3 separate regions of the Homo sapiens genome follow, and regions 2 and 3 are each linked to region 1. Evidence: fine-mapped expression QTL. A gene starts in region 1. Each other region holds a variant in brackets. All regions are shown on one strand. Distances are between the middles of the regions.

The links. PIP is the estimated chance that this variant, and not a neighbour inherited with it, causes the effect.
Region 2: its variant is the best candidate, but not a certain one, in a credible set for the expression of LINC01012 in caudate (GTEx, PIP 0.61).
Region 3: its variant is the best candidate, but not a certain one, in a credible set for the expression of LINC01012 in esophagus mucosa (GTEx, PIP 0.72).

What each region holds. Positions count from the first base shown.
Region 1 is chr6:27,689,310-27,697,933 of GRCh38, forward strand. It overlaps LINC01012 (long intergenic non-protein coding RNA 1012), which reads left to right and starts at 4,726. Exons shown (of 4, transcript NR_038294.1): 1 at 4,726-5,197.
Region 2 is chr6:27,798,121-27,806,744 of GRCh38, forward strand. No RefSeq gene overlaps it. Among named protein-coding and RNA genes, the nearest start is that of H2BC13, 5.5 kb to the right of the region's middle. RefSeq lists an enhancer at 8,514-8,624. The variant G/A (reference allele first, on the strand shown) is at 3,807.
Region 3 is chr6:27,975,274-27,983,897 of GRCh38, forward strand. It overlaps the pseudogene OR2W4P. Among named protein-coding and RNA genes, the nearest start is that of OR2B6, 22 kb to the left of the region's middle. The variant T/C (reference allele first, on the strand shown) is at 4,389.

The DNA.
Region 1 (8,624 bases):
TTTCTCATATATCCCTACTGGGTTTCTTTATTTAAATACTGCATTTATATTGATTATTTTTTCTTCTTTTTCACACAAAAGAGAGCTTAGTTATTTACTCGTTGTTCTGCATTTACACTTTTTCTTAATGTATCTTAGATGTTTTAAATTGCACTTTTCAACTTTGTACACTGTTAAAAGCAGAGCTTATTTGGGAGGCCTAGGCGGGTGGATCACGAGGTCAGGAGATAAAGACCATCCAGCCAACATGGTGAAACCCTGTCTCTACTAAAAATACAAAAATTAACCGGGTGTGGCAGCACGCGCCTGTAGTCCCAGCTACTCGGGAGGCTGAGGCAGGAGAATTGCTTGAACCAGGGAGGCCGAGGCTCCAGTGAGCCAAGATCATGCCACTGCATTCCAGCCTAGGCGACAGAGCGAGACTCCATCTGAAAAAAAAAAAAAATCAGCTTATTTTCAAATGAGTTGATCCTACTAGCCAGGAATTGAATATAGATACTTCTTGTCCACTGTACAAAGTACAGGCTTTTTCATCGTAGGAAAGAGGGTGGTGAAGACGATACCCTTAATTTTCTCTTATAAGGTGAACAAAGCACTTTCTTTCCTAGACCATATGATCATCAAAGAGGTTTGAATATGGGCTCCCAAGCTGTACAATAATCAAAGGAAATTATATATAATTTCAACAAACATTTATTGATCTCTCACTCTTCGGTGTGGCAATCCGCTGTCTCTAGTGAAAAGATATGAAGGAAATAATGTTAAGTAACAAACTAGAGTACAAAAATATGTGTGTGCATGAATATTATATATGTATATATGTGTGTGTGTGCATATGTGTGTGTGTGTGTGTGTGTATATATATATATAGATATAGATATAGATTTTTTTTAGACACTGTAGCTCTATTGCCCAGGCTGGAGTGCAGTGGCATGATCTTGGCCAACTGCAACTGTGCCCAGCTGAAAGCCACTCCATCTTGGATGGTAACCCACCATATTGACTTCTGATTAACCCCAGTTCTGGGAATGCCTCTAAGATTTCTACTTTGAGGTACAATAAATCCTGCAATTAGGTGAAAACAACCTTGGTGTTATTGTAACCACATACTTACCATACACAAATCCTGCCCTTAGGCTAGGCGCGGTATGTCATGCCTATAATCCCAACACTTTGGGAGGCCGAGGTGGGCAGATTACTTGAGGTCCAGAGTTTGAGACCTGCCTGGCCAACATGGTGAAATGCCATCTCTACCAAAAACACAAAAATTAGTTGGGCATGGTGGGGCGTGCCTATAGTCCCAGCTACTCCAGAGGCTGAGGAAAGAGAATCGCTTGACCTGGGAGGCAGAGGTTGCAGTGAGCCAAGATCTGGCCATTCCAGCCTGGGCGACAGAAGGAGACCGTCTCAAAAGAAAAGAAAAAAAAAAATCCTGCCCTTAGGCAAATTCCCTGTGGTTCATAAGCCCTGGGTTTGGCTGGTGACAATGTGGGGATCCATCATCTTGTCTTGCTACCACTCAAGACATGGCTTCTGTTATTAAATGTTTCTTTCTGAGAAACTGAATTTGTCAGCCTCTTTCTTTGGCCTCTCAGCTTCCTCAGCCTTTAGGAGTAGACTTGTATAGACCTGCTCACGGTGGAATAAGACTGAAAGCAAACGACATCAGATTCTAACAGCTTTCAGAGGTAATGGTGGTGGGCAAGAGAAAGATACTCTTTCTGCATCAGACGTCTCATCAGCAACCTCGAATGAATGTTAGGAGAAAACAAAATAATGCCTCAAAATCTGGAGGAAAAATGTTTTAATACAGAATTCTATAGCTATGTGTAACATCAAATGTGAAGTTGGAATAAAGACATTTATAAACCTATCATGACTCAAAAAGCTGACCTACATTTTAAGACGCAAACTGAATATATATACTACAGGGAAAATAGGGGGGAAGACAGAGAAAGACATGGAACTCAGGAAATGATGAATCTGATCTAGGAGCTCAAAAATGAAAAACACAGGATGACAGCTATTCAAGAAACCTAGAATGCAACTAATCCATACGGGAGCAGGAAGCTAAAGGACTCAGAGAAGATTTACCAGATTTACCAGACAGGAGGGGATCATGCAGAATAGATTTAATTGAGAACTTGGTAAGTGTTAAGGATGTTGCATTAGAATGTATCATTCAGCTGCGAAATAAAAAATAAAAATGGGAAAAAGGAAGAATAATCCAATTGGCTTAGGACAGAAATACATCTCACGTGACAGGAACTACAGAGGTACTCTGACTCTTTCTCTGTGATTGGCACTGTTCTACCACATCTGGTGTTGGTATTACCCTTAAGCTGTCTAATCTTACAACTATAGTTAATACTGCTGCCACAAGCAGCAAAGTGGTTTTTCCCCATGCATTGAAGGAAAGTCATAACCCCTCCTCCCAATTATGAAAATATTATTATGCCAATTTAGGTCCCTTAAAGATTACATTGAACCTTAAACTTTTCTATGTAACAAACAAAATGCAGGTACTTTTACAGTGGTCATAGAACCAATTTATATATAATTTTTAAAGAATGATTAATAAGCAAGGCCATGAGATGGATGTTTATATTACACAGGAGATACAACTACATGTTTTGGAATTCTGAATTTAACAGGTGGTTGTTTCCTTTTGTTTTACAGATAGTCCTTCGAGATATTATTACAGTTAGTTAGAGAATTAAGAACAGGAGCTTTCTTAAAGATAATACAGGGACAACTGTGACTTTTCTCTCCATATGAATAAAAATTTACATTTTTCCTATCTTCTATTTTATGGCCAGAGAAAACTCTGAGTATTCAGATTTATCCCAAAAGTTTCTAAAATGACCAAACTGTTCAGAATCATGCTTTTTTCCCTTTTCTTTCTTTCTTTTTTTTTTTTGTTTTTTGTTTTTTGTTTTTTGAGATGGAGTCTTGCTCTGTTGTCCAGGCTGGAGTGCAGTGGTGGGATCTCAGCTCACCGCAACCTCCGCTATCTTGGTTCAAGAGATTCTCTTGCGTCAGCCTCTCCAGTAGCTAGGATTACAGGCACCCGCTACCACACTCAGCTAGTTTTTGTATTTTTAGTAGAGTTGGGGTTTCACCATGTTGGCCAGGCTGGTCTCGAAGTCGTGACCTCAAGTGATCTGCCTGCCTCGGCCTCCCAGAGTGCTGGGATTACAGGCGCGAGCCACCACGCCTGAGCAGAATCATGCTCTTAATTGTACTTGAAAAACAAAACTTTATCTGAAAAAACTTTCTGAGTTTTTGTTTGTATGTTTTTGTTTCTGCTAAAGCTCAAAGTTTCTGACCCTAGGCAAGTTTTTATTAGTCATAGTGCATTAATAACAAATAAATACAAATAGGGCTAATAGGAAAAAAAGGACTAAGAAACTAAGAGGTAAGAAACAGAAGAATGACAGGTTTTGCTTTAAGGAAAAGTGGAGTGGCCCGGCCTTGGTGGCTCATGCCTGTAATCCCAGCACTTTGGGAGGCCGAGGCGGGTGGATCACGAGGTCAGGAGTTTGAGACCAGCCTGGCCAAGGTGGTGAAACCTCGTCTCTACTAAAAATACAAAAATTAGCCAGGTGCGGTGGTGGGTGCCTGTAATCCCAGCTACTCGGGAGGCTGAGGAGGCTGAGGCAGGAGAATCGCTTGAACACGGGAGGTGGAGGTTGCAGTGAGCCGAGGTCGCGCCACTGCACTCTAGCCTGGGCGACAGAGCAAGATTCCGTCAAAAAAAAAAAAAAATTAAAAAGATTTGCTTCCAACCACATAAGGGGAGGAGTGGTTTATAGATTAATAAAATTGCCACGAGTTGGTATTTCTTTTCTTTCATCTTGTTTTCTTTCTTTTTTTTTTTTTTTTGAGGCGCAGTTTCGCTGTTGTTGCCCAGGCTGGAGTGCAATGGCGCTATCTCGGCTAATCACAACCTCCGCCTCCTGGGTTTAAGCGATTCTCCTGCCTCAGCCTCCCTAGTAGCTGGGATTGCAGGCATGCACCACCACATCCGGCTAATTCTTTTTATTTTTAGTAGAAACAAGGTTTCTCCATTTTGGTCAGGCTGGTCTCAAACTCCCAACCTCAGGTGATCCGCCCACCTCGGCCTCCCAAAGTGCTGGGATTACAGGCGTGAGCCACCGCGCCAGGCCTTCTTCTTCTTTTTTTTTTTTTTTTTTTTTTTTTTTTGAGAGGAGTCTTGCACTGTCGCGCGGGCTGGTGTGCAGTGGTGTCATCTCGGCTCGCTGCAACCTCCGCCTCCAAGGTTCAAGCGATTCTCCTGCCTCAGTCTCCCGAGTAGCTAGGATTACAGGCGCCCGCCACCACGCCCAACTAGTTTTTTGTATTTTTAGTACAGACGAGGTTTTACTATGTTGGCCAGGTTGGTTTCGAACTCCTGACCTTGTGATCCGCCCGTCTCGGCCTCCCAAAGTGTTGGGATTACAGGCGTGAGCCACCGCGCCCGGCCGAGTTAGTAATTCTTGAAGGTGTGTCAGGTACATTGGATGCACTGTACTATTCTGTCTACCTTTGTATATATACTTTAAAGGTTTTTCCCCACAATTTCTCTGGGAAACCTGAACCTTTCTTCCCCGTGTGTTTAGAAGGGAAGGTGAGGAGAGTCAAAGGCACATGGAGCATTAACAGTTGGAATAAACGACAGAGACACGGAAACCTCCGAGGTTTCCAGAGCGGACCCGGAAATGACGCCAGGGGATGCAAACCCTTCTGCCCCTTTTTGCTACCCCTGAAGCTTACTGTTAGTGGTCGAGTTTTTCTGGAAGTGGGCTTCCGCGATCGCGGGGACCAACGCCCTGAGCTCTTGTGCCCAAAGGGGATCGCCAGGTTTTTTGATGCGGATCGAAAGGGACTGGCCCCGGAGCCTACAACCTGACGCAGGTGGGACTTGGGGAAATGTCGAGAAACCTAGGTCTGGGACTTGAGTTGGCTTCCAGGGCACACATTCTTGTTCAGAAGAAACACATTGCAAAAATCGGGAGGTGACGGGCAGATGAAGTGTCGGCGCTTCGCCTCGGGACTCCAGTGCAACCTATGGGGCTTTTGGAAATGAGGAAGTCGATGACTCTGCAGGGACTCCTCTGACCCAGGAGCAGATGGCGCTCGTCTGGGCACTCCCCAGGAGAAAAGGTGCATCGGGAAGCAGCCTGGCTTGTGGATGGTAATAAGTCACTGTTGATGGGTTGGGTGCAGGGAGGGATTTAAGTTCTTGAGCGACAGATGCTAGGGAGTTTACCTGCTCTGGATAACAGTATCTTGTGGAGGATAGTCACCTGGAAAACAGAAATGGCGTGACTGTGTTGAATACACTGTTTGATGATTCTGGGCATCAGGTGAATAGGAAATGTGTAACGTTATGGATGAGTGTGTGCTCATCGGACAGTAGCAGTGCATCTTAACAGTCGGCCTCTCAGTCCTCCTCTTCCTTAGAATCACCTATAGAGCTTTAAAATTTCCTGGATAATGTTAATGTGCAGCCAGCGATGATGACCATTGGGCTACAGTCAAATCCAAGAGGCGCATCTCATCCTTTGTTCTGATGGACAGAAACCATTATTCTGACATCGTGCCTGTTGGAGACATTGTACCTTAACTAGCATTTAATTCATGTGTGCTGGATTCGCTGAATGAAACTTACCAGCAGGGTACTGAATCTTGAATAATACAAGGAACGAGTAGAATAAGATAGTTCTCATTTTATCCTTATCTAATCTAAGAAATCTAGCAATATTTCTCTGTTTAAGTTTTTTTTCTTCAACAAAAAACAAAATACATGTAAGAGGATTTTCTGACACTGCTGGGGGCTCATAGAATTCTAGTGTCTAGTGTCTTTTCTGTCAGTTAATGTTACAAAGTTCAGTGGTGCTCCTTTTTTGAGATGGTGTCTAGCTCTGTCACTCAGGCTGGAGTGAAGTGGTGCCAACTTGGCTCACTGCATCCTCTGCTTCCCGGGTTCAAGCGATTCTCCTGCCTCAGCCTCCCAAGTAGTTAGGATTTCAGGTGTGTGCCACAACGCCCAGCTACTTAGTAGAGCCGAGGTTTCCCCATGTTGGCCAGGCTGGTCTCGAACTCCTGACCTCAAGTGATCCACACATCTCGGCTTCCCATAGTGCTGGGATTACAGTTGTGATGATCTTAAAACCTCTAACGATTTGGAAATATTCCTCCAGTGATCTTTGTTCTGTCGCAGTGATTGTAATAACATTTATTGAGGAGTTGTATGCCCAGTACTATTAAATAGGTTTACAAATTTTGTTATTTAATCCTCACAACTCTGTTAGAGAGATTGGATATTTTTATATCCATTTAACCACAGTAAAGCTGAGGCTTAGAGGATTTAACCTGGTAATAAGTCCAACATCCCACAACTAGTAAGTGACAGAACCAAGGATTTTCATTCATGTCTGTATAACATAAAAGCCTGTGTTTTATACTTTTTTTTTTTTTTTTTTTTTTTGAGATGAAGTCTCGCTCTTGTCTCCCAATCTGGAGTACAATGGCGCGATCTTGGCTCACCGTAACCTCTGCCTCCCAGGTTCAAGCGATTCTCCTGCCTCAGCCTCCTGAGTAACTGGGATTACAGGTGTGTACCACCACGCCCAGCTAATTTTTTGTATTTTAAGTAGAGACGGGGTTTCACCATGTTGGCCATACTGGTCTCGAACTCTTGACCTCAGGTGATCCATCCACCTCGGCCTTCCAAAGTGCTGGGATTACAGGTGTGAGCTACCGCGCCCAGCCATGTGTTTTTTACTTTTTAGTCAATGGGGCACTTCAGATTACAAGATCTGTGACCCCCCCACAACCATTCCATGAACTATTGGTTCAGCATATAAGAGGACCCGTTTTCTGCCATTTCCTGCATGATGCCTCTAGCAAGCATTGCAATCACAAAGACCTGGGTTTTTAAAATTATTACAAAGAAAAGGAAAGCTTCAGTAGTATGTTGATTAAAGGAATGTCTAGAAAAGGGGAATGGGATATGAGAACCAGGTTACACCAAATTGACAGTTTATGAAAAAATAGTAACCAAGAATATGATACTAATTTTGACTAATTGGTTTTGAATAGACATGGCTTTATTCATTTAAGACAAGCATCTCCATATTTGTGGAGTTTATTCTAGAGGAAAATACAGTTTCTCAGGTGATGGTATTGTGGAGAAAAAGAAATCAGAGAAGGGCAATATGGAGTAGGGTAGAGTGAGGAATGGGTGTTGAGTTTTAAATAGGATGAATGCGGAAGACTTTACCATTATTTAAGCAAAGACTAAGGAATGAGGAGTGAATCACGGGGATTCCAGAGAAGGAACATTCTAGGAAGGAAATATGCCTTGTTTTGGAAGCCATGAAGAGCTCTATACTGTTGACTAGAGATTTGTATTTTGGGTCTGTGACAAATACACCAGGATGATCAGAATCTAGCCAGGAAGGGGTAGAGTTCATGAGAGGAAGGAAGTTGACATTGGCTGGTAAAAACAGACTCTTAAAAGAAACCTCTTTCAGGCGGTGGCTCACGCCTGCAATCCCAGCACTTTGGGAGGCCAAGGTGGGGGCGGATCATGAGGTCAGGAGTTCGAGACCATCCTGGTTAACATGGTGAAACCCCGTCTCTACTAAAAACATAAAAATTAGCCAGGCATGGTGGCCTGCACCTGTAATCCCAGGTACTCAGGAGGCTGAGTCAGGAGAATCACTTGAACCCGGGAGGCGGAGGTTGCAGTGAGCCGAGATCGCGCCACTGCACTCCAGCCTGGGTGACAGAGTGAGACCCTGTCTCAGAAAAAAAAAATAAGAAAATAAGAAACCTCTTTCAAAATAGGCTTTTGCCGGGCGCGGTGGCCCACGCCTGTAATCTCAGCACTTTAGGAGGCCGAGGCGGGCGGATCACGAGGTCAGGAGATCGAGACCATCCTGGCTAACACATGATCCGCCCCCCCTTGGCCTCCCAAAGTGCTGTCTCTATTAAAAATACAAAAAATTAGCCGGGCGTGGTGGCGGGCGCCTTTAGTCCCAGCTACTCAGGAGGCTGAGGCAGGAGAATGTTGTGAACCCAGGAGACGGAGCTTGCAGTGAGCCGAGATCGCGCCACTGCACTCCAGCCTGGGTGACAGAGCGAGACTCCATCTCAAAAAAAAAAAAAAAAAATGGCTTTTAAAAGAATATTTTTACTGACATTGAAAGTAATCTTGTATGTATGTGCTTATGGTAGAGGGAAGAAGAGAAAAGCTAGTGAAAGGAGAAGAAAGCTGACTTCCTGGAAGCTGTTGCAAAAAAAAGAATGATAGAATATTTTTTTTTTTTTTTTGAGAGGTTGTCTGGCTGTGTTACTCAGGCTGGAGGGCAGTGGTGCAGTCTCGGCTCACTGCAACCTCTGTCTCCAGAGATCAAGCGATTCTCCTGCCTCAGCCTCCTGAGTAGCTGGGATCACAGGCGTGCACCACTGGGCCCAGCTAATTTTTGTATTTTCAGTAGAGACTGGGTTTCGCCATGTTGGCCAGGCTGGTCTTGAACTCCTGACCTCAGGTGATCTGCCCACCTTGGCCTCCCAAAGTGCTGGGATTACAGGTGTGAGCCACCACACCCGGC
Region 2 (8,624 bases), 110 kb after region 1:
AGAATATCATTTGCTTTCCTAGATCTAGATCTTAGCAGGGGCAGAGCCATTTTCTCTTTTTTATTTTGTGGTGCATTTTTTCAGCAGCTATTTAGAAAATGTGCAGGTTTTTGAGGCTCTATGTAGGAATCATTTTGGGCTAAGAGCCAAGAAGGTGAACGATGAAGCTCAAAACTTCTTACCCACCCCATGGCTGTCTTTGCTCCCACCACTATGGCCTAACCTGCTGTTCCCAGAACATGCTAAGCAGAGCCTGCCTCTGGTACTTTGCACTCATAGTTCCTTCTGCCCCAAACAGCTTCCCCCAGGTAGCAATATACTCTCTCACCAGTTTATGCCAATGACAGTTCAATGAGACCTCATTTGTATGCCCTCCTTAAAAATGCAATCTCCAGCTCCCTATCCCCTTTCCTGCTGTATTTTTATCTAAACCACTTATCAAGGTGATGACATGTTATGGAATTTAATCCCACCTCAAAGTACCATAAGAACAGGAATTTTAGCAGGCTATTTTCAGCGTGTATTCTCAATGCTAATATATTGTCTCTCATATATTAAGTGCTCAATAAATGTTTTTTTGGTTAAGTAAGTTAATTTCCTTTAAGCTGGCTGATGGGGTCATATAGAGGTAAAATTACTGGCTCTGAGTGATTTTCCTCACTTATAAATATAATTTGCAGTAATTTCTATATTATTCTTTTCCTCTTAATGCATGGTGATAATTATTTCCCTGTTACATATGTCTTTTTTGTTTGTTTGTTTGTTTGTTTGAGACAGAGCCTCGCTCTGTTTCCCAGGCTGGAGTTCAGTGGCGCAGTCTTGGCTCACTGCAACCTCTGCCTCCCGGGTTCAAGTGATTCTCCTGCCTTAGCCTTCTGAGTAGCTGGGATTACAGGCATGTGCCACCATGCCCAGCTAATTTTTGTAATTTTAGTAGAGACGAGGTTTCACCATGTTGGCCAGGCTGGTCCTGAACTCCTGACCTCAAGTGATCTGCCCACCTCGGCCTCCCAAAGTACTGGGATTACGGGCATGAGCCACCATGCCTGTCCTACATATATCTTATTCATTGTCTTATTCAATCATACAACTTCCTGATAAAATGAGGCTGATTTTCACCCCTATTTTGCTGTTAAGGAAACTGGTATAATGAGTGTCACTGACTTGTTTGTGATCACACAGTGGACAAAATGGCATTTGTTTCTTTGTGGTGATCTCACAAAGGTCAAGATGACCTTAGATCCTCAGTTTTGGCTGTTTTTTTTTTGTTGTTTTTTTGTTTGTTTGTTTGTTTTACACCAAGGAACCAGGTTCTAGCTCCTATGTTTGTTCATTGCATGGAAAGGAACAGGAAGATCTGGGGGCCACTGAATGGAAGGTTAGATCCATTTTCTTGGTTAAGCTTGTAGGTTTTCTCGTCTCTTTTCCTTCCTGCAGCACAATTCTTATGAATGGCAATATCTTCTATTAAAATTCTCAGTCTGTAGTCTTCTTGTCCATACAGAAAATAGATTTCAGGTCAACACATTTGATAGTCTGGACTGTGCTAACTGCTCCAATATTTGAGTACATCTTTTGGGGATGTGGGAATTTAGTGTTGTAGGCCTCAAGTGGGGTTCGTTCCCAGAATTTGGAGAGGCTATAGAAATATAACCTGGTTGGCCAGGCACGGTGACTCATGCCTGTAACCCCATCAATGTGGGAGGCCGAGGCAGGTGGATCACCTGAGGTCAGGAGTTCGGGACCAGCCTGGCCAACATGGAGAAACCCTGTCTCTACTAAAAACTTTTAAAAAATTAGGCGGGCGTGGTGGTACGTGCCTGTAATCCCAGCTACTTGGGAGGCTGAAGTAGGAGAATCCCTTGAACCCGGGAGGTGGAGGTTGCAGTGAGCTGAGATCACACCATTGCACTCCAGGGCAACAGAGTGAGACTCCATCTCAAAAAAAAAAAAAAAAGAAAAAGAAATATAACCTGGCCATAATATAAGCATAAATAAAATAGATGACATTCTTTCAAAGCTTTTCTTAGCCTCTTATGTTTCTCAGATATTAAATAATCGGGCCAGGCACAGTGGCTCACGCCTGTAATCCTAGCACTTTGGGAGGCCGAGGCGGGCAGATTAACTGAGGTCAGGAGTTCAAGACCAGCCTGGCCAACATGGTGAAACTCCATCTCTACTAAAAACACAAAAAATTAGCCAGGTGCAGTGGCACGCGCCTGTAATCCCAGCTACTCGGGAGGCTGAGGCAGGAGAATCGCTTGAACCTGGGAGGTGGAGGTTGTGGTGAGCAGAGATCGTGCCACTGCACTCCAGCCTGGGCGACAGAACGAGACTTCATCTCAAATAAAAATTTAAAAAAAAAATAGTCAAATGCAAAATAAAGTAACATTCCAGCAATTTAATGACAGATATTGAAGCCACCTTTGCAAAATTATGACTGAGACAGAGAAAGAGATGGAATTTAACCAACTCCGTCTTGCTTCTAACCTCCAAGCCATCCTTGTTCATTCCTGGGTGTAGGCTGAACTAATTTAGGGAGAAACTTAGTTTGTAGTTTATAGTTTAAACAAAGATGGTAACAGCCCTTTCCCAAAGCAGACCTCCTTCTTGCCTTGGGACTGGATTGCCTTTGTAGGACTAACATTAGCCACAAGATTAAAAATTATGGCAGCTGGAGGCTACAAGATTCTAACCCTCCCTAACTGCTCCTAAGATCAGTGCTTGAGATATTTTGCAGACGCTGCACTCAAGATGGGTCAGATAGCACCACCCAGATCTATTAACTGGCTCATCTGATCCTGTAGCCCCCACCCAGGAACTGACTCAGCACAAGAAGAGAGCTTCAACTCCCTATGATTTAATCTCTGACCATTCAGCACTCCTGGCTCACTGGCTTCCCCCCATCCACCAAGTTATCCTTAAAAACTCTGCTCCCCAAATGCCCAGGGAAACTGATTTGAGTAATAAAACTCCAGTCTCCTGCACAGCCAGCTCTGTGTGAATTACTCTTTCTCTATTGCAATTCCCCTGTCTTGATGAATCAGCTCTGTCTAGGCAGCGGGCAAGGTTAACCCCTTGGGTGGTTACAATATGTACATGGGAAAGTGGTTGGCCTGCTTGGAATTGGAACAAAGGCAAACTAAGCATGATGATTATCAATGAGTTGCAGCCCAAAACCAACCAAGGAAGGACTATTAGTTCATGCTAGATTGCCTGTGTGGCTGTTTAAGACAGGATTCCACCAACAGTAAGAGAGACAAGTTTTAATCCCATTCAAAATTATGAAACTATTCCTTAGTAACCAGGCTGTTTCATTTACTTTGATTTGTTACTTACTAAAGCAATTTCTGATTAACAATTTGTGGTCAGTTCTAAGTCCAGGCACATCTTCCACTATAATTAACACAATGAGTTCTAGCTTTACTATTTTCTTATAAGTTTTGTTATTGTGAATATATCCTTCAGATGCAAGCATCCCAATAAAATCTCTGCTTGAAAAGGCCTGGTGCAATGGCTCACGCCTGTACTCCCAGCACTTTGGGAGGCCGAGGTGGGCGGATCACCTGAGCTCAGGAGTTTGAGATCAGCCTGGCCAACATGGTGAAACCCCGTCTCTACTAAAAATACAAATATTAGCTGGGTGCGGTGGTGTGCACCTGTAGTCCCAGCTACTTGGGAGGCTGAGGCATGAGAATCGCTTGAACGTGGGAGGCAGAGGTTGCAGTGAGCAGAGATTGCACCACTGCACTCCAGCCTGGGTGACAGCGAGACTTCGTCTCAAATAAATGAATGAATGAATGAAT[G/A]AATAAATAAATAAATAAAATTCCCACCTGAAGCATTCCATCAGTACATCCAGGTTATAACAACCGACACTCATGGAAACATTGCAGAGGAAGGCAGGCTAGGGGAGAATGTCAGGTTTGCAGGACCTTCTTTGGTATGGTACAAATGTGTCCCCCAAAATTAATGTGTTGGAAACTTAAGCCCCAGTGCAACAAGGTTGGGAGGTAGAGTCTTTTGGAAAATGTTTAAGTCATGAGGGCTCTGCTTTCAGGAATGAATTAATGCTGTTATAAAAGGGCTTGACAGAGGAAGGGAGTTCATCCCTTTTTGTCCTGCCATAGGAAGACATAGTGTTACTCCCCACAACCTTCCCCCAAAGACACAGGACTCAAGGTGCCAATTTGGAAGCAGAGACCTGGCCTTCAGCAGCCATGGAATCTTCTAGGACCTGAATCTTGTACTCCCAGCCTCCAGAACTGGGAGAAAAATAAATTCCTTTATAAATTACTCACTCAGATATTCCGTTATAGCAGCACAAATGAACTGACGTTGCTTAAGGTTTTCTAGCCTTAAATGCTATGATTATTCAATTATAGCTCATATCTTGTAAATATGTTCTGAGACAGGCTGAAGAGTAAGTTCTTATAAGGGAACATGAGGTTGTAATGAAAAAAAATCAATTTAGAAAAAAGCTTTTATGAAAGAAGTTGAGGACTGTACCTACGTTAAGCATGAAAATAACAAAAACAAAAAAATACCCTTATTCCTGACAATAAGCCAAAATGTTCATTTGAGAGAAGTATCACCTAGAGGGTAGACAATAAAGCCCTGTTGAAGGATACGTATGCTCTCTTATTCTCCTGTTATGAAATAAAATCCTCTTCCAGTCTTTTTATATTTCTTCATGTCAAATATCCATTCAGGCCTACTCCTTCTTATAATTTAATACCTACTAATAAAATTTTAGAACATGGCCTTGCAAATAATTTTTTTTTTTTTTTTGAGACAGGATCTCACTCTGTCGCCCAGGCTAGAGTACAGTGGCTCGATCTCGGCTCACTGCAACCTCCACCTCCCGGATTCAAGCGATTCTCCTGCCTCAGCCTCCCGAGTAGCCGGGATTATAGGCGCGAGCCACCATGCCTGCCTAATTTTAAAAAAACTTTTAGTAGAGACGGGGTTTTACCATGTTGTGTTGAGCAGGGCGGTCTCGAACTCCTAGCCTCAAGTGATCCGCCTGCCTCGGCCTCCCAAAGTGCTGGGAATACAGGCATGAGCCACCGCGCCTGGCTATACATTTTTTTTTTTTTGAGACGGACTTTCGCTCTTGTTGCCCAGGCTGGAGTGCGATGGCGCCATCTCGGCTCACCGCAACCTCCACCTCCCTGGTTCAAGCGATTTTCCTGACTTAGCCTCCCGAGTAGCTGGGATTACAGGCATGCGCCCCCACGCCCAGCTAATTTTGTATTTTAAGTAGAGACGGGGTTTCCCCATGTTGGTCAGGCTGGTCTCAGACTCCTAATCTCAGGTGATCTGCCCACCTCGGCCTCCCAAAGTGCTGGGATTACAGGCAGGAGCCACCGCGCTTGGCCCTATAAAATCCTAATTAACAAAATCATTCACACACACACACACACACACACACACACACACACACACACACAGATGTAAGGGCATGGTCTCTCTTCCTTGAAGCTACGGAATTACAATTCTCCTTCACAAAGACAGTCAAAGGATGTGATCTGATGTGTTAGATTTTCTCTCTCCTGTTCAATATGGAGTTTTGCATCTTAGTTTCTTTGGGCCGCTATAAGAAAATACACTAAACTAGGTGACTAACAAATAACAGGATTTTACTTCTTACAGTTCTAAAGGCTAGGAAGTCTAAGATCAAGGAGACACCATATTCTATGTCTAATGAGGCTCACTCTCTGCTTCATAGATAGCATCTTCTTGCTGCAACTTCGTATGGTACAGGGGGTGAACAAGCTCCCTCTTTTATAGGGGTACTAATCCCATTCATGAGGACGCCATCCTTATGACCTATTCACCTCCCAAAGGCCCCACCTCTTAATACCACCATAATGGGGATTATGCTTCAACACAAGTATTTGTTTCTTGTTTTTGTTTTCAACATAAATATTTGGAGGGTAACCATTCAGATCATAGTAGTACCAGTATCCAAAACTGCCACCAAATAGTTTGTTGTAAGTTAAGATAATTGCAGAGCATCACTTAACTTGAAAAGCATTTTCTAAAATGTCCAAATATTAGACACAGTTGAATATCCCATAGATATATATCTATTCAGTGTGCAATTTTGATTCATTGGCTTATTTAGTTATATATTGTGACGGTAACAATGCTCTATTTGGGCCGGGCGCCGTGGCTCACGCCTGTAATCCCAGCACTTTGGGAGGCTGAGGCGGGCAGATCACCTGAGGTCAGGAGTTCAAGACCAGCCTGGCCAACATGACGAAACCCTGTCTCTACTAAAAGTACAAAAATTAGCCGGGCGTGGTGGGGCGTGCCTGTAATCACAGCTACTCAGGAGGCTGAGGCAGGAGAATTGCTTGAACCCCGCGGAGCTTGCAATGAACCCAGATCACGCTATTGCACTCCAGCCTGGGCAACAAGAGTGAGACTCCGTCTCAAAAAAACAAAACAAAACAAAAAACAATGCTCTATTTGACATATCTCTTTTTAACTGGTGACAAATACTTGTAAGAGTCTAAAAGAGACTAATAGTACTTTCTTTTGCTTTTTCTCCCACATGGTCTGACCAACAAAGAAAACTCTATGACTGCTAGATTAACAAATAACTTCAGAGTCTGCTCATTTAAATAAATGTTATTTAAGTAACATTTAAATAAATAGTGTTAAATTGGCATCTGGAATTATGTGTAAAATATTTCAGAATCTCACTTAGTAAGTCCTTCTCAGATTATATCTAGTTGTTTTATCCTGAAGTCCTCATTTTGAGAAGCCTGCCGTGATACAGAAGGAGGCCACTGGTGTAGCATAGTCACAGACTACTTGCTCAGCCCCGTGGGTGCTCCCTTCTGCCTACCCCTGACTTTAGCCACACCACAATATTTCTGCGTTTTTGAAGGTGACACCCATTTTCTTATTGCCCAGAATGCTATTTGGCACTCTTCCCACTCCCACCCATAATATTATTTATTCTGTGCTCCTTAGGCTTTTTATTCATATCTCTACTGCAGCATTTATCATCTTATAATGTGTGTTTTACTGATAATCAAGTGAAGTGATTCTTTACGCTATTTTTTTTTATGGATGGACAATACACACATAGGATTCAAAATTCAAAGACCATAAGAAGTTACAATGAAAAGATCCTCCATCCATCCCTGTCTGTAGGACATCCAACTTTCTCTTTCCTCAGAGGCCACCACTGATAGCAATTTATCCAGTATCCTTCCAAAAATATTTTACATTTATACACACACACAAACACACACAAAATTCTACTGCACATTATCCTGTATCTTGCTTTTATTGCATTTGACAGCAAATTTTGGAAATCATCCCATTATTAGCACCTGGAGAAGCCGTATAGTATACACTGGTTATAAATAGGGATTCTGAAACCAGATTCTGGTTTTGAATCATGTTTTCACTACTCATTACCTGTTACCAACCTAAGTAACAAACATAGAGGCTCTCTAAAGACAAATACATTTATTTGGGAATAAAGCATTGTAATGGGAATCCATATGCTATAAAGTACATGTGTATTCAAGGAGGTAAAGGAAGACAAAGGTTTTTAAAGAAAAAAATAAGGAGGGTTACAATAACAAGGGCGATGCCAGTCCAAGGTTGGGAAGGCAGTTGTTGGACAAATGGTCTTGTAGAAGTATTTTTTGTGTGTGTAAGGTTTTGATGGCCTGTGTTTATGGTTGTGGCTCTTACCATCTTTTGTGATAGTTTTTGTTATTAGGCATACAAGCGTGAGAACTTTCTCTTTATGGCTTTTCTTGGCTCTGTGTCAGGATTTTCTTAACATTAGTGATTTCATTTTGATTGACAACTTTCCCACTGTACAATTTCACACTTTAGGCAATTTACTCGAGCTCTCTGAACCCCCATTTTATGATCTGTAAAACAGGTATAAAAATAGTAATTTTTCACAAAGTTGTTATGAAAGCTAAATGATTTAACATATGTAGAGAGCTTTTTAGGACATTATCTGGCACATGATAAGCAGTAAATAATTATGAAAAAGAGCCTTCTTATTTTTTACTAGATAGAATGATGTACTGTAATTTATTGCTAATCAGTCAAATTGCTTCAGTCTTATACTACAAACAGTGCTGCTGGAAACCCCTGCATATATTATTTTGCATATTTTCAAAAATAGTAAATTCCTAGGGGTGAAATTTCTGATGTAAAGATAGGTGCATTTTAAAATTTTGACAGGTATTACCAAATTTTCCTTTATGAAAGCACTACCAATTTGTGGGGCCACCAGCAATGATTGAGAATTAAGGTCTGGGAGGCTTATTCAGGATTTTCCATTCCTATAGCAGAATACTATGACTGGCCTATGGTGAATAGTAGATGCTTAATAAATGTTAGTAAATTGGATGGTAAATAGTATACGAAAAACAGTTGGGTTTGGGTGAAAACAAGAAAAACTTTTAAAAATCTACTCTGGCATCTTTTGCTAGCAGGCATTGACAATTAGGAGAAGGCAAGGTGTTAACTTTTACTGATCTCCCACTTTTTTTTTTGAGACAAGGCCTGGCTTTATCACCCAGGCTGGAGTGCAGTGGTGCGATCTCAGCTCACTGTAAACTCCGCCTACCAGGCTCAAG
Region 3 (8,624 bases), 290 kb after region 1:
GATTTCTGGTGCATTCGTATCATAATCATACTGTTACTTTCTATTTCTATTAACCACATAATCTTCCACAAAATCCTAGATAACAATCCAAGCCAGAGGAAATAACATGAACATTTCTTCTTCCTGTATACTTTGGGAAAGTTGAAACCAGGTAAGCCTAAATGACCAGAGAAAATAGGGAAATTTTTCTTTTACTTTGGTATACTGTATTTGACTATGGAAAATAAATTTACTATAAGAACGTCAATGTCAAGACGTTTTCACCAAAGACAAGTTTTTCATTTGAAAATCAAAATATCTGTGATAAAAATTTAAGTCCTACTCTGTATTTATTTTTTCTCATTTCCTAATTGAATATACTAATTAGAAGCAGCCCTTAATTCTGTAGATTGCATTGTAGTGTGAGGTATATTTCACACCCATATTGTACCTGCTGTTCTGCTATTTTCACACTTCTCCTTTTCTCTGTTATTTCACTTTTATCCTAGTATCCTTTAACCCAGTTATGAGTGTGTGTCTTTATGAATCGATCTGACTTTATTCTTCTTAGCCATGTTAGGGTCATTTTTTAAATTTATGTTTTTAAATGATGCTTTTTAAATTCCTTTTTATTTACCACATTCTCCTTCCCTTTGTCTCTACTCGTCCCTATTGCCGTGCACCTCTCCTCTGTAAGCTAATCACATTGTTTTTTAACATTTGCAAAAGGCTAACTGAAGATAAAATATATTCAAAATTGCCATTTTATTAATGGACAGAATATGCTCCCTGACTTTGGCAATCTTGGTTGCAAAATTCTCTTGCTTACAAAGACATGAATTGTAGAGATCAAAGTTGACAGTAAGTATTTCACGGGAATAAAGAACTGTGATATTTAGTAGATACAGTTATAACCTAAGTGAAAAGATAACATTAACACTGTAAAGTAGATGCATACTTATGCCACAGTAATTAGATCATAATAGTTCAGCTCATGGTGGGCAGTAATTTCCCTGTGTCTTGTGTTTTTCAAAAATGCAAGTAGTGAGCTCAGCCATGGTGTCACATTTTCAGGTCATTGTCAACATTGAGGGCATGTAGAAGACAGCTATTAGGTGACAATACATTTGCTAACCTTGTTTATAAGAACAGTTGAAGGAAAGTGAATGTCTTAGACTACAGAAAATTTAGTCAAGATGTAGTAAATGCCTATAATAGGTTAATGGATATTGGCCAGGTGCAGTGGCTCACACCTGGCCAACATCCATTCAGTTCAGCACTTTGGGAGGCCAAGGCAAGAGGATCACTTGAGGCCAGGAGTTTGATACCAGCCTGGGCAAGATAGTGAGACCTTATCTCTACAAAAACATGAACAAAATTAGCCGGGCATGGTGGTGTGCGCCTGTAGTCCCAGCTACTCAGCAGGCTGAGGTGGGAGGATTGTTTGAACCTGAGAGGCAGAGGTTGCAGTGAGCTGAGGTTGTATCATTGCACACCAGCCTGGGCTACAGAGCAAGACCCTGTCTCAAAAACAAACAAACAAACAAAAAAACAGTTAATGATGTAATAGGAAGAGGTATTAGATTGATGTGTATTCAATAAATTTAAAATAGTTTGTCTTGTGCATCATAGGGAGAAAATGTCTACTTAATAAAAAGAGGATTATAAATAAGAATTTCCCAACAATGAAACACTTTGCCTTATGTGTTTGAACAAATGATAAACAGCTTATATAGCTAGCTGGGCAGAAGATATGCTACAATTATTGAATGGGTTGTTAGGCTTGATAGTTATATGTCCCCCCCAAATCCTGACATTCAATGGTATTCACATATTGCAGATTAAATATTCTTCATTTTGTCCCTACTAGCTATACAGATGATGTGAAAGGAAGGCAATGGAAAAATCCAATGTCAGCTCAGTGTATGGTTTTATCTTGGTGGGTTTCTCTGATCGTCCCAAGCTGGAGATGGTGCTCTTTACAGTAAATTTTATTCTGTATTCAGTGGCTGTGCTGGGAAATTCAACCATAATCCTTGTGTGTATATTAGACTCTCAACTTCATACCCCAATGTACTTCTTTCTGGCAAATCTTTCCTTTCTAGATCTCTGCTTCAGTACTAGTTGCATCCCACAAATGCTGGTAAACCTCTGGGGCCCTGACAAGACTATTAGCTGTGCTGGCTGTGTTGTCCAGCTTTTCTCTTTCCTTTCTGTCAGGGGAATTGAGTGCATCCTTCTGGCTGTCATGGCCTATGACAGCTATGCTGCAGTCTGCAAACCGTTGCGCTATCTGGTCATTATGCACCTCCAGCTGTGTCTAGGACTGATGGCTGCAGCCTGGGGGAGTGGACTGGTCAATGCCGTTGTCATGTCACCACTAACAATGACCCTCTCCAGAAGTGGCCGCCGCCGAGTTAACCATTTCCTCTGTGAAAGCCAGCACTGATCAAGATGGCTTGTTTGGATGTTCGTGCAGTGGAAATGCTGGCTTTTGCTTTTGCCGTTCTCATTGTCCTACTGCCCCTCACTCTTATTCTTGTCTCCTACGGCTACATTGCTGCAGCTGTGCTAAGCATCAAGTCAGCTGCCAGGCAATGGAAGGCCTTCCATACCTGTAGCTCTCACCTCACAGTGGTCTCCCTGTTTTATGGGAGCATCATCTATATGTATATGCAGCCAGGAAACAGTTCTTCCCAAGACCAAGGCAAGTTTCTCACTCTCTTCTACAACCTGGTGACTCCTATGTTGAATCTGCTCATCTATACTTTAAGGAATAAGGAGGTGAAAGGAGCACTGAAGAAGGTTTTGGGGAGGCAATAATGAACTGGAGAAATATGATAAGTTGTGAAGTCTTAGGCAAAATATCTTTTCCAAATACATTTATTTTGTGCTTATAAGAAATCTAGCCAATGTATCAAACATTCTTGGATTTTTAAAGTATGAATAAATACACTGAAGTATATCCAAAATCAATATGAATCAACCATAGCTACACTTGATATGAATAAGTCTTAGCCTAATAATATTTAGTAAAAAGAATTAAGTCCCAGAAGAAATGTGAAATGACTCTCATATAGATATAAAATAAATGTGTTAAAGATTTTTATTCAACTCAATCAATGAGGGGCCCACACAGATGTAATAAGTGGTTCAAAAAAAAGTCAAAGAAGCACAAATTTATAAGGAGTAAATCAATGTGGAAATGCATGTGCAAATAGAGGCTAAACTTGCTTCTTCCACTGTGGGAGAAGGAAGTAAATTCAATCTCTACCCAACAGGACTGAATTTGTATGTCATAGACAAGAATTATTTTACATTGCTATCAGTTAATAATTTACAAAATTGTAAAATATCTGCCACAGAATCAGAATCAGATTGTTCAAAGGGATGTCCTCTAGAATCTGGACAATGCATAATTTTTCACTGAAGCATAAATTTTTCCCTGTAAGTTAAATCCTGTATCTTATTCATGTTACAACACTAAGTATATAGTCTCAAGCCTCTTAATTAACCTGGGTCACACAGAGAATAAGTGGGATTTGCAAATGGTGTATATGATGCCTGAACCTTTGCTGTTAACCACTGAATAATATTGTCTTTGTTATAGAGTGTTGGTGCATAGATCACTCAATAATCAGCCCCAGGCTGTTTGTTTCATCAGTTTGTACAATCCTTCAAGCATGAGGGATATGCTAATAGACTCTCTGAGAGAATTCTCACCACTTATTAATATCAGCCATTTCCACATTGTCCCATGCAAACTCCCCATCCAAATCTTTTCCATGTTTTGGTGGTCAGCTCAATGCAACATACTTATAAAATTGTCTGAGAATCTTTGATTTAAAAATGTTCTAGCACTCCTTTTAACATATGGCATTTTTATACACTGAAATGACAGGTTTTCTACTCCATATTATACTTATGTATTTCTCATGTATCCTACTAGATTGTAAGTTCCTTGATGGTAGGGCTATTTATTTTCTTAATCTCTCTTAGCATCATTCCAGGTATTAAGTTGATATCAAAGTGCCTTGCAGATAGTAAGTGATCAATAGTAGCTTGGGGTGATTATTAATTTTAACTGATTAATTATTTCTTCCATAAATTATTTCTTCTTTTTTAATTGATGCCACTATCTAATTCTGTCTCTGTTCTTCAAAATTACAAATAAATCTATAACAATATAATGTCTCAGTTTAAAGCTATTGTCAAAAGTTTTATACTTTTCTTTCTTAATTCAATGTAAACTATACAATAAGAGAAAAAAATAGTCATTAAGGAATTTCTTACCATGGGTATCAAAAGTCATCCCCATATTTTTGGAATAAAAACTTTTTTTCTTAAATATGCATTATAAACTCAAGAGAAATTATGATGAATTCTGCCACAGTCTAAGAATTAGTGTT[T/C]AAGAATTAGTTTGAGAGTTAGTTAAGAATTAGTTTGATCACACGTTTGAATTAACTAAGAGTTAACACCACCTGGACAGATCATTTTCAGTGATATGAAAGTTAGTTTTGGCCACAACATGTTGATTATACCTCTAACTCTGATTATACCTCTAAGTCAATTTTATAAAGATAAAATCTTGATAGTATTTGTTCTTGGTTTTAAAGAGTGTCTGCCTCAATATGCCCCAATGTATCCAAATAAATAAGTAATCACTCCCTTAATGCAATTAATTTGGTCAGTCTAAAAAGAATTAGGGCCAGAGGTAACTTTTTATGTGGGACTCAAAATCCTACCAATGTTACACATTACAAATATTTATGATTTGCAGACATAACACATTCATTGGCAAGTAAGTGCAATAAATTTACAAGTTATTTTGCCAAAATATGTCAAGTAACATTTTATTCACTTGCACAAAAATAAATATATCATCTGTGCAATAGAAATATCTGATGACAACAACAGTGCAGCATTCTCAGTTCCAGAAGAAAGGTGAATTGGCTCTCATATAGATATAAAATTACTGCTAAAATCCCTGCTATGCTGCAGTCTGCAAAACCTTTGTGCTATATGGTCATTATGCACCCCCAGCTGTGTCTACAACAACAGTGCAGCGTTGGCATGCATGTGACAACAGTGCATCCAATCCTCTTTGGATTGGCATAAGAAGGATATTTCTCCCCTCATTAAAATGGTTTTCTCTCATGCAATTTCTTTATGGTCTCAAGTTCATTATTCCCTATTTGTTACCCATTTCCCATTGTTAAACATTAAAACCAGCAAAAATATTTTTTAAAAAAGCTTCTGTAAATATAAGTGGGAAAATATATGTTTGCAATTCATAGATGTGCTGGAAAGTTATGAAGGCCAGTGGGAGTGATTATATTTACATAATACCAAATTTTACACTGAAAATAGAAATTACTTTTAATGAAGTTACTGCAATGAGCAGGTGGAAAAAATGCTTTAAATGAACTTACTTTTGTCTCTGGTGCAGAGTTGCATATACCATTTTTTAAAGCTACAGAGATTTAAGTTAGGGGACATCTAGAATTTCTATTCTTGTGATAAATGTACAAGCCCCCATAATACGTGTTATAGATTTGGTGATTTCCAAACAGCTTCTACTTCTCTGCTTTTTGTATTTGTTTCAGAAGACATCAATAGTAATTTAATATCTTAAAAAGCCATGTTCATTTTTCATATTCTGTGTTTTACAGAGTATTTGTCTTGAAATAACATATTGGCAGTATTCTTAAGACCGAGAATAAAAAAAAATGTTTTGCTATTCGAGGCCTAAAATCCAACTAAAATAATTTGTAAAGGTGTAACAGAAGAAATATGAATATGGAATGAGTGCCATGTATCAGTTCTAAAATAAATTTTGTAGATTGTCGATCCTATAAGATCTCCCTTTTATTCATGGTATATATACTCCCTGTAAATGTGTTCAGAATTTTTCACAACAGAACTATCTACTGCATCTGTACTGCATTGCCAAAGAAATTCTTCTGTTGGATCTCAGAAGTTCTTAGTATCTTTAGTAGTTTTTTTAAAAGGATAAACTAATTCAAACCTCTTTCTACTAGAGTATTTTATTGTAAGAGGAGATCATTTTTGTGGAAATAGTCACTAAAATGAATAAATCCAAAATGTGAGAATATCACTCATCATTATGAGACTTATTAAAAATAATAGTTATCAGCTTGAGAAGAGAGGACGGCTCACAAACCTCCACAAAGACATAGCTGTTCACATTCACTCTGTGTAAAAATAAATATCACAATTATAACTGATAAGAACATTTAAATAATATTTACTTTTTTTGAGACAGTCTCACTTTGTCACCCAGGCTGGAGTGCAGTGGCACAATCCAGCTCACTGCAGCCTCAACTTACTGGGGCTCAAGTGATCCTCCCACCTCAGCCTCCCTGGTAGCTGGGACTACAGGTGTGCCCCACTATGCACAGCTAATTTTTCTATATTTTGTAGAGATGGGGTCTCACCATGTTGCCCAGGCTGGTCTCAAACTCCTGGGCTCAAGCAATCTGCCTGCCTCAGCCTCCCAAAGTGTTGAGATTACAGGAGTGAGCCATGGCGCCCAGGAAATATTTACTTTTTAAGTATAAAAAGTAGCTTCTTTCTTCTGGTTTCTTGTTAAAAGTGCCAATATCTTCTTCTTCATGATTATGAAGAAAAATAAAAAATTCTGTTTCACCTTGTATAGTAACTGTTTCTAAAATTCCAGAATTGATTGGTTCTCTGAAAAACAAAAATCTATGTTGACTATAATTTGTAATGCCCTCAGCTAGTGTCTCTGCTATATATACCTCTATGTTATAAGACTATGGGAACATTCTTCAAAAATATTATCTAAAGAGCCCATGTAAAGATTATCATGGAATAATACAATGAGGAAATTTAATTATTCTGTGACATCAAACATATGCTTGCCTAAGAAACCTAAAAAAAGTTAAATTATTTTTGAAATTTTCAGTCAGATATTTCTATTGCACAGATGATATATTTATTTTTGTGCAAGTGAAAAAAATGTTACTTGACATATTTTGGCAAAATAACTTGTAAATTTATTGCACTTACTTGCCAATGAATGTGTTATGTCTGCAAATCATAAATATTTGTAATGTGTAACACTGGTAGGATTTTGAGTCCCACATAAAAAGTTACCTCTGGCCCTAATTCTTTTTAGACTGATCAAATTAATTGCATTAAGGGAGTGATTAACTATTTATTTGGATACATTGGGGCATATTGAGGCAGACACTCTTTAAAACCAAGAACAAATACTATCAAGATTTTATCTTTATAAAATTGACTTAGAGGTATAATCAGAGTTAGAGGTATAATCAACATGTTGTGGCCAAAACTAACTTTCATATCACTGAAAATGATCTGTCCAGATGGTGTTAACTCTTAGTTAATTCAAACATGTGTGATCAAACTAATTCTTAAACACTCCAGCTCAATACTTCATTTGTAGGTTATAATCTTTCCATAGGGTAGATGCAGGTTTTCATGAAGTTATTATTATTTTTCGAGACAGGATTTCACTCCTGTAGCCCAGGCTGGAGTGCAATGGCATGATTTCAGCTCACTGTAACCTCCGCCTCCTGGGCTCAAGTGATTCTCCCACCGCAGCCTTCTTAGTAGCTGGGACTACAGGCGCATGCCACTATGCCCAACTAATTTTTGTATTTTTTGGTAGAGATGGGGTTTCACCATGTTGCCCAGGCTGGTCTCGAACTTCTGAGCTTGGACGATCCGCCAGCCTCAGCCTCTCAAAGTGCTGGGATTACCGGCGTGAACCACCGCGCCCGGCCTACTGGTTTTCATGAAATTATAAAATGACCCAGAAATTTAAAAAAACCTTTTCTCCTGTGGATAGACTTTTGTCATTAATTTTTTACAGTGGATAAAATTATTGTTTACATTTAGATTTAGCCCTAGGTTTTAGAAAACATCCTCCTTTTTCCTTTCTGGTCTTCAACAATATGTATTTTATTTCAAAAAAGAGTGGAAGAAGAAAGAGCAGAGATATTTTAGTTACTGAACATTAGAGTTGGATCCCAGCTCTGCCATATTTAAATTTACATCTTTCCCCAAGCTACCTAATTTCTCTCATTCCTGAGTTATTTAGCTGCAAAATCTGAATTATTATATAAATTTCATGGGGTTATTTTTATAGTAATTAATACTATATTGCCATCAATGTAAAAATTTTCTTTAACTGTAAAAAGACACGACAATCTATGTAGGTGTCTGAAAGCAAATGTGGTTGAGAACAGGTAGCTATTGAGGCAGGCTCCCCTGAGGTGGGATTTGGGAATGGCAGAGGGATGACTGCAGACCCACTGCCACCCTGGTTGTACTACTGCTCAGCCTCACCTATCAGAATGTATCATTAGACTAAGGAAACAACCAGCTTCCTCCAACTGAACAGGAATAACTCCCAGATTTTTACTCTTCCTCCTTAAGTCATTGCAACTTTAAACAAATGGTTAAATTGCCCTAAATGGTTCCAGAAATATTCACCCGCATTGTTAAGTTGCTTCAACTTTCAATCTATACTTAAGTCTATAAACTTCATTAGTATTATTAGAAATGACAATTTAATTTTCCTGTTTTAAATCTCAACATAAAACTTCTGTGGGCCTAGCTATGATAAATTCCGG